2 linked regions of the Homo sapiens genome follow. The protein of the gene in region 2 purifies or fractionates together with the protein of the main gene of each other region. This does not show direct contact. Each region holds a gene or a part of one and is shown on either strand. Other genes may lie near its edges. The genes, in order: WDTC1 and PLA2G12A.

Region 1 (3,808 bases), on a different chromosome or scaffold from region 2:
TGACAGTCTGGCAGAGTCAGCTCTCTGGAAGCTGATGGTAAGGGGGGTTGTGCACACCAGGAGCTCCAAATCGTCCCCACTCACTTCTCCAACCTCCTGAAGCATGGATGAAGGGAAGTGGGAGTGCTTTTGATGGGGAAGCGGGGAAAGAGGAAGTGAAAGGAGGTCAGAGAAGCCCCTCCTTTTCCCACCCTGTGCCAGAATATAGGAAGCATACTCCCCCAGCACCCACAGACCTGTCCTTGCCTCTTGTCTGGAGAGCCAGACAGGCCACAGGAACTGCTTCTTCAGAAGCCATTTTTTTTTTTCAGCTGGGCTGGAGTAGGCCTAGGACCCAACTGTGCCAAGCAGCAGTAAGAGGCACCCCTTAGAGTTAATGGCCCCTTCTCCAAGGGCACAGCTCACAACAATCCGGCATGGCTAAGGCAGGCCTGACATGGGAAGGTTCTTCCTGAGCCTCCTTCTGCAGCACTCAGAGGGAGCACCCAGTCCTCGGAACAGCCACGCTCAGACCAGGAACCAGCAGCTCAGCCCATGTGGGGGCAGGCAGGAAACAGAGCTGCTTCAATGGCGTGGCCTGCGTCAGGATGAGTGGCTCTGACGAAGGAGCAGGCACTGTTTGGAAACCCAATTACTGCCTGCAAGGTGCCCCTCTGAGCTCCTGGGGAGAGCCAGACCAGAGACCAGCCAGGAGCCAGAGGGTGACAGCTCCCACTGCATCCAGGAGCAGATGGCAGCCCTGGGGAGACTGGCCCAGGACAGAATGTGACATTCTAGGGGTCACTGGCAGGCATGTGGGGATGGGGGTAGAGAGCAGGCTGGCCCCAGGGCTCACCCTTCCTAGACTCACTGCCAGATCAATCTCCCTGAAAGGACAGCCCTCGGCACATCCCTCTCCTGCTCAGAACTCTCCAGTAGCTGCCCATCATGCACTGAATCGAGGCCAACGTCACCGCTCTGCATTCCAAGCTCTCCCTAGGCCGGCCCCAGGCTACCTCACAGACTCATCTCCTGCCAGTCCCTTTCCGAACCCTCTGCTCCAGCCAAATGGATTTGCTGTTCTGCAAACAAGCTCTTCAGTCAGTCCCCCACCCCCATGCCTTTGTTCACACCATTTCATCTCCCTGGAATGTCCTTCCCCCACAGGCCCCTCCTCTCCTTCATCTCCTGTCTAAGCCTGCCTACACTTAAAGCCCATTCAGACGCCATGTCTTTCTGATGCTTCCCTGCTCCCCAGCTAAAGCGACCCAACTTTTCTTGATGCCCACAGCCCTTTACCTGACCATTCACAAGACTCACTGCTTCCTATCTCTTTAATGCTGAACTATGTCCACCACTTTACCCACTGTCTGGAGAGGCTCCTCTGGAGCACAGGAACTCAGAGTGATAGAACTTTGTGTTCCTAGTACCTAGCACATAGTAGGAGCTCAGAGAACATGCTGAGGGCACATATGGATTAGGAAATCACCAACCTCTCTTAGCAAGAATGCAGGAGTGAAGCTGAGCTCTTAGCCTACAGCCTGGATGAGGACCACTGAGTTCTACCCAACTGTTTGTTGGACAGAGAGGTGAATCAACTCACGATTCATCCAAAACAGTCATCTCCTGGGTTTGGCTACCACCTGAGCCCTTGGCCAACTCCTGATGCCTTAGCTAAGGCCGGGGGACAGCATCTTCCCCACCCCCACCTAGCATTACCATCCTGCTGACTTGGGTGGGTTTCTTAAGTTTCCCTCTCTGGCCTGCCGAGTTGCAGCCAGACGATGGCACACCAGCTGGCCTGTCTGTCTGGGCAGAGCCGACGGATGCCAGACGGAGCAGAAATGGCTGTGGGCCCAGCTCTATCCATCTCTAGTCCTGGCCCTGGCTGGGGGATGGGGGGGCGGGGTCTGCATGTCTGCTTGCCTGCTGGTGCTGCAGGCAGTAGGGCTGGGGGCCCTGATGGTCTCCAAAGATGAGGAGTTCTTTCAGATATGGTCTACTTCTTTATTACCAGCCACCATACCCTAGCGTGACCCATAGCCAGCTTTGGATCTCTGGGATATGGTTTGTACTCAGTCCAAAGGGTCTAAGAACACAGAAAGCAAGCCTTAGAGGGGCAAGGGACTGCAGAATATTTTAGACACATACCAACTGAATTCACCAAACCCCTCATTTCCACTTAGCAAGATTCCACTGCTCTTCAAAGTCCAATTCTCCAACAGTTGGGACTAACAGTCCTCAACTCATACTTCCCCAGGGGCCACAGCACTTTATAATAATATGCCATGTAGAAACTAGTTTTGAACATGTTCCACGTAACTGTGAGCTTCCTTAGTGCTTGAGACTTCCTGATTAATGGGTCAGGTGCCTGCCCACCATTAGCCTGGAGGTGGGGAGGAGAGGCCAAGAAGCCCTAAGAGGCAGCAATATGTTCTTGCCACTTTCCCTGGATGCCTTGGCAACTTGGCTCCATCAGGCCCCTGCCTTTTGGTCCAGCTGCTTTCTCCCTCATCCTGACCCAGATCCCCTCTGCAGTGGCCACTCACCACTTGCGCTTCATGTAGGCTGCTGCTCGGTTTCCATAAAGCATGGCATTGTGAGGGGCCCTCTGCACAGCCTTGCTGTAAAGCTGAATGGCTTGGGTCCACTGCTGGCAGGCAAAAGCCTCATTGGCTTGCTGTTTCACACGCTCCAGGTATGGTGGTAGCTCTACTTGGGGGCTGCAGGGGAAATAGAGCCAAGTCAGAACAGTCAAAGAAGGTCAGAGCAGCCCCTCAGGGAGTCTGTAACATGGCCTGAGGGCCACCCAGATTTTCTTGGCCCCTGGGATCTGACTGCTATCTGGAAGAGGGGACCACTACCCTGGTCTGGGATATTACCTATTACTGTGATAGGGAATACCATTTGGAATTTCATTCCAAATACCATTCCAAATACTCTCAGCCAGTGAAAAGAAGGGCAGAAATGAAGCTGTACTTCAACTCCTGGGCATGGTAGTAGCTGATACCACCTGCCTCCATGCTGAGCTGAACCTTATGACCACCCGAGTCCCTCCTGTGGATCGCTGTCTAGAGAACTCTATTTCTCTCAAGGCTAGGGAATTTGAGCGCCTCTGTATCCAAAGCCCAGCACAGAGGCTGGCAGAGAAAAGAGGCAAGGATATGCTATAGGATGGGGAATAATATAATGCGGAGGCCCATTTGTATGCAGCCCCTTTTTGGAGACAGCTCAGTGCTAAGAGGCAGCTAGCTCCTGAGTCCTGACCCCAGTTACTGGTACCAACAGGCTAGAGCTACAGTCTGACCATGACTAGTGTTCTGCCAGGCAGAGGGGCACTGGAAACACTAGGCACCCTCCAAGAAGGCTCTTTGCCTTGGTCCTCACTCTCTGGGATGCATGAGTGGGTGTGGGTCAGGAGGAAGATTTACAGGTTATGTCCCTCCCTCCAGTCCATATAGTGTAACTGGGGCTTGGAGGGCTGGACAAGCCAGCTGGCCTCACCTGACATGTCCCCTACTCTCCGGCAGCCGGAAGCCATTGCTATGAAGGTGCAGGCCATTGGACACACCGTTGGACACACCGTTGGTGGACATCTTGCCATTCTGGACTTCTGGCAGGAGATAGTGAGAAAGTGACAGCAACAACTCAGGAAGAGGACCCATTTCTTCCTGGCAGCCCTCTAGCTTCCATCACGGGGTCTGATGGTTCCATCGTGGGACTGTTCTCCCAGAGTAAGATCCATTCCCAGAAAGCAAGTTCTGACATAAAGAAAAGCCCGTGCGCCCTCTGCTGGCTGGCGAGGGACACAACTTCACCGTGGCATTAC
Region 2 (4,259 bases):
CACTGCAACCTCCACCTCCCAGGTTCAAGCTATTCTCCTACCTCAGCCTCCCAAGTAGCTGGGACTACAGGTGTGCACCACCATGCCCAGCTAATTTTTGTATTTTTAGTAGAGACGGGGTTTCACCATGTTGGCCAGGCTGGTCTCGAACTCCTGAGCTCAACTGATCCGCCCGCCTCAGCCTCCCAAAGTGCTGGGATTACAGGCATGAGCCATTACGTCCTGCCTAATTTTTTTTTTCATTGAGATCCAATTATCTATCAGTATGGTGACTTGGACTTGAAACCACATGTCCGTTAAACGTAGAGTACTTACTAAGACAAAAAATTTTTTTTCACTGAGGCATATAACATTTCTTAAATTCTCAAATTCCTTTGTGTTTTTTTGTGCCAGAGACCTTCCTCTAAACTCCAAATAGTAAATTTTGAGAAGCCTGTAGAAGATGAAAAAGATTAAAAAGAAAGATTAAGCCAGGTGTAGTGGGGGCATGGCCTATAGTCCTAGCTATTTGGGAAGCTGAGGCAGGAGAATTGCTTGAGCCCAGGAGTTGGAGGCTGCAGGGAGCAATGATCACACCACTGCCCTCTAGCCTGGGCACAGAGGGAGACCTTGCCTCAAAAATATTAACAAAAAATAAAATAAAAAGACTAAAACAGTATTTTAACAAGGCTGGTATTCATTCAACTTCAGGCATGTTTTAAATGTAAATAAACTCTAGAACCCTAGACTAATAAATTTATGAAGACGACTCCTTCCAAGTCTTCCCTATCTCTGTAAATGGCAACCGTTTCCTTCCTTTGGCTCAGGCCAAAACCTTCAGAGTCATCCTTGACTGGCCTTTCTCCTCAGGTCCATTGCACTTGCTATTCCCTCTGTCTGGAATGCTGTTTCTCCAAATAACCACATTCCCTCCCCTTACCACGTGCAGATTTCTTCTCAAATATTCTTTCATCAGTGAGGCCTTTGCTGAACAACCCATTTAGAAGAGTAAATTGCCTCCAACATGGCCCCTCGTCTGCCCTGATCAGACTCCACACTTCCCCTAATTTTACTTATTTACTAGTTTACTGCCCATCTCTCCCTCACCAGAACTCAAGCTCCACGGACAGAGATTTTTGTCTGTTTTATTAACTGCTGAATCTCAAATTAGAACAACATCTGAAGCACAGTTGGGACTCAAATATTTGTATAATGAATAGGAATGACTAAGTAAAACTGTAACATTTGCTTTAGGAAAGGCAACTATTTGATCCTTAAATTATGCACTTAATCCTCCGAACAAGTTCTACAAGAATAAAAACATCTTCATGAAGCATACGTTTAGGTGGTAACGTTTAGGCACAAATTTAAGAAGCAATGCAACATGTCTCAGCACCTGTTCAGCGCTTTAAAGTATACAAGATACAGTTCATCCTTTACTTCTATTAACATAAAACTAGAAATTATCTTGAAAATTGCAGGCAGCATGTGGCATCATAGGTTTACATGATACCAGTTCCTTTTAAGTTCACCTATACAATCAGGTTCCAACAATGAAGTCACTGGATCCCCGATTATTTTCCGCTGCCAGCATAATGAGACTCTAACCTTGGCTAATCTTATTGGAAACATGATCTCCCAACTGCTCTCTTAACATTTTCAATTTCCAAACAAAAGTCCAATATTTTTCTGACCTATTAAAATATTTAAGCACTCAAAAATGTGCTACAAAAGAACTATCTCTGCCTGAAATACTGAGTTGATTAGTACTCATACCGCCACCAAACAAATTCTCAGGTTCAAAGAGAAAGTTCAAAAAATATTAAAAGAGTAAATGAAGATAACTGTATTAACGTTAACCAACAATGAGGAGGAGGCGGGTCACTGATATCTAAGGAAAGAAGAGTTATCGGAACCCTTTCTCAACACTCGAGTACACCAAAAGTCTGTACAAAGGTCGCAAGTTATTGTCTATGGGTTTGCAGAAAAAAAACCATTTAATATCAATTATAGAGAAAGTTAATACGGCATGGTTTTTAAATTCTCAGTTTGCTTCGCATGTTCATCCAATTTACAGAAGCAAAAATGAGCTAAAACCAGTCTGTTCCACTCTATTCCCATGATTCCTACGTCAGTAAGTTCTTCGGCAACTTGGTGCAATTGAGGGGGGGAAAAGGTAATTCAGAAGCAATGCAAATGGGACGGGGGGTACACCTCTCCGTTAGAATGTGACCTCTCACATTCTAACAATAGTGGTGCGAACTTGTACCCAGCTTGCTCAATCACTAGAACGGCAAGATTCTAGCAGTGGTTAAGTTTTTCCACAGCCGAAGGACACCGTCAAGGTCTGCCTTGCATCTGTCACTCACACCTCCAGGATCTCCGTCACCCCAATCCCCCGAAAGCACGAGCCCTCGCTGGGCCCGGGTGCCCCCTCACCGTCACTGCATTTATACTGGCAGAGACCGTCCTCGCCTCCCAGGAGGTCCAAGGCGGCGTTCAGGTACGTGTCTATCTTATGAACGCCGTTCCGGATGGTCTTCAGGGTGGCTCTCCAGTCGGTGGTCTGGGCCTGCTCCTGGCACCTGACAACAGCGGCCATGAGGAGGAGCAGGAGGGTGAGCGCGGGGCGCGAGAGCAGGGCCATGCGCGCAGCGCCGGGCTCTACGGGTCCCCGAGCCGCGGCGCGGGGCGCGTCCCCACAGAGTCCCCAGGACGCGCTAGGCAGCGGCGCGGGCCCCGGACTTGGCAGCAGCCAGCTCCATATCCACGCCTCCTTCCCGGCTGGCCCTCAGGATCTCGCTGTCTTTACGTGAACCGCCTCGGGCAGGCAGCGCCGTCGCGGGGACGCGCCCGCTCACCTGGACCAGCGCGCCCGCTCACCTGGGCCAGCAACCGTCCCCTGTGCGCCTGCGCCGGAGCACGGCGCGTCAGCGGCGCACGGGAGGGGCGGGACGCGCAGGGGTGGGGCGGGGCGGGGGCGGGGTTGGGGGGGGCGGGGAACCGGGGGAGGGGCGCGCGGGGCGGGAAACGGGGGCGGGGCCTCCATGCCCACGTGGTCTCCGCGGCACCCTCCCAAGACCCTTGGTCCTGGTTCACAAGAGAACCTTAAAAAGTACCCAGGCCTGAGCCCCTTTTCTAGGGAGCCTGATTACGTTGTCCCAGGTGGCAGTGGGCGTCGGTATTTTTTAAGAAAGCTCTCCGGGCTGTTAACCGTGAAGCAAGAGTTGCAGAGCTAACCCCGGTGGCCTAACCTGACCAGTCGGGGCTCAGCACAGTAGCCCCGAGAGACAAGCTTTTCTGGGTGTGGACAACATCGGAGAAAATAACCCCTGTGCCCCCTCGCAGAGAGCGCTGCGAGAGGTCCAGCTGAGTTTCCGGCTTGAAGACGTGGTTCCATTGGCAATGTGGGCAGAGTCCGGCTGTCAGCTCGCAGAGCAGGGCTTTTCCTCCTTGCGTCCTCTCCCGGTCCTCCAGATCTGCTGTGGCCGCGGTTGGGGGAGCGGGATCTGGAAGATGCCAACCCATGCCTTGGCGGTGCCTGACTCTAATCAGGACGAGCTAAATGCTAGTTTAGACTTTCCGGAAAAAGAAAATGGGCCAACATAAAAATCATAAAATTCTCCCCTGGTAAGGAAGAAACAGTAGTGTAAACTTAAATACAGTAAAAAGTAAAATAAATCTTAAGGAAGTCATTGTTTTTCTACTCAAGGGATTTTGTAACTTGATAGTTACAGTGACGTTTGTTTCTCTGTACCTACCACCCTGCCCCCAGCATTGTGCGGGATCCATAAATAACTATTGCAGTAGTACTTTGTATCAGTTGTAAATATCTGGTTATCTTAGTATCACAGCAGTTTCCAAGAATTTTACAGTAAGATCCAGAGCAATGTTGAAAGTATTGGGCAGACCAAGCGCGGTGGTTTACGCCTGTAATCCCAGCACCTTGGGAGGCCTGGAACTCCTGAGGTCAGAAGTTCGAGACCAGCCTGGCTGACATGGTGAAACCCCATCTCTACCAAAAATACAGAAAATTAGCTGGGCGTGGTGGCGGGCACCTGTAATCCCAGCTACTCGGGAGGCGGAGGCAGGAGAATCACTTGAACCCAGGAGGTGGATGGATGTTGCAGTGAGCTGAGATTGCACCACTGCACTCCAGCTTGGGGCACAGAGCGAGACTCTAAAAAAAAAAGAAAGTGAGTAAGTATTGGGCATAGGTGTGTCCTTTCTATAAGAATTACCAATAAGTTCTAGGTTTGGCCTTTTGTGTTTGTTACAAA

Evidence for each region.
Region 1: the proteins of PLA2G12A (region 2) and WDTC1 purify together in Homo sapiens (affinity purification with mass spectrometry; one large-scale study listed by BioGRID and IntAct). This does not show direct contact.

What each region holds. Positions count from the first base shown.
Region 1 is NC_000001.11:27,296,832-27,300,639, reverse strand, and holds part of WDTC1 (WD and tetratricopeptide repeats protein 1), read right to left. Parts: intron 3,593-3,808; coding exon 3,484-3,592; intron 2,703-3,483; coding exon 2,529-2,702; intron 1-2,528. UniProt on the Homo sapiens protein: May function as a substrate receptor for CUL4-DDB1 E3 ubiquitin-protein ligase complex.
Region 2 is NC_000004.12:109,727,184-109,731,442, forward strand, and holds the start of PLA2G12A (group XIIA secretory phospholipase A2 precursor), read right to left. Parts: upstream 2,888-4,259; 5' UTR 2,627-2,887; coding exon 2,419-2,626; intron 1-2,418. Other genes in the region: CFI (complement factor I isoform 4 preproprotein), read right to left, coding at 4,050-4,159. UniProt on the Homo sapiens protein: PA2 catalyzes the calcium-dependent hydrolysis of the 2-acyl groups in 3-sn-phosphoglycerides. Does not exhibit detectable activity toward sn-2-arachidonoyl- or linoleoyl-phosphatidylcholine or -phosphatidylethanolamine.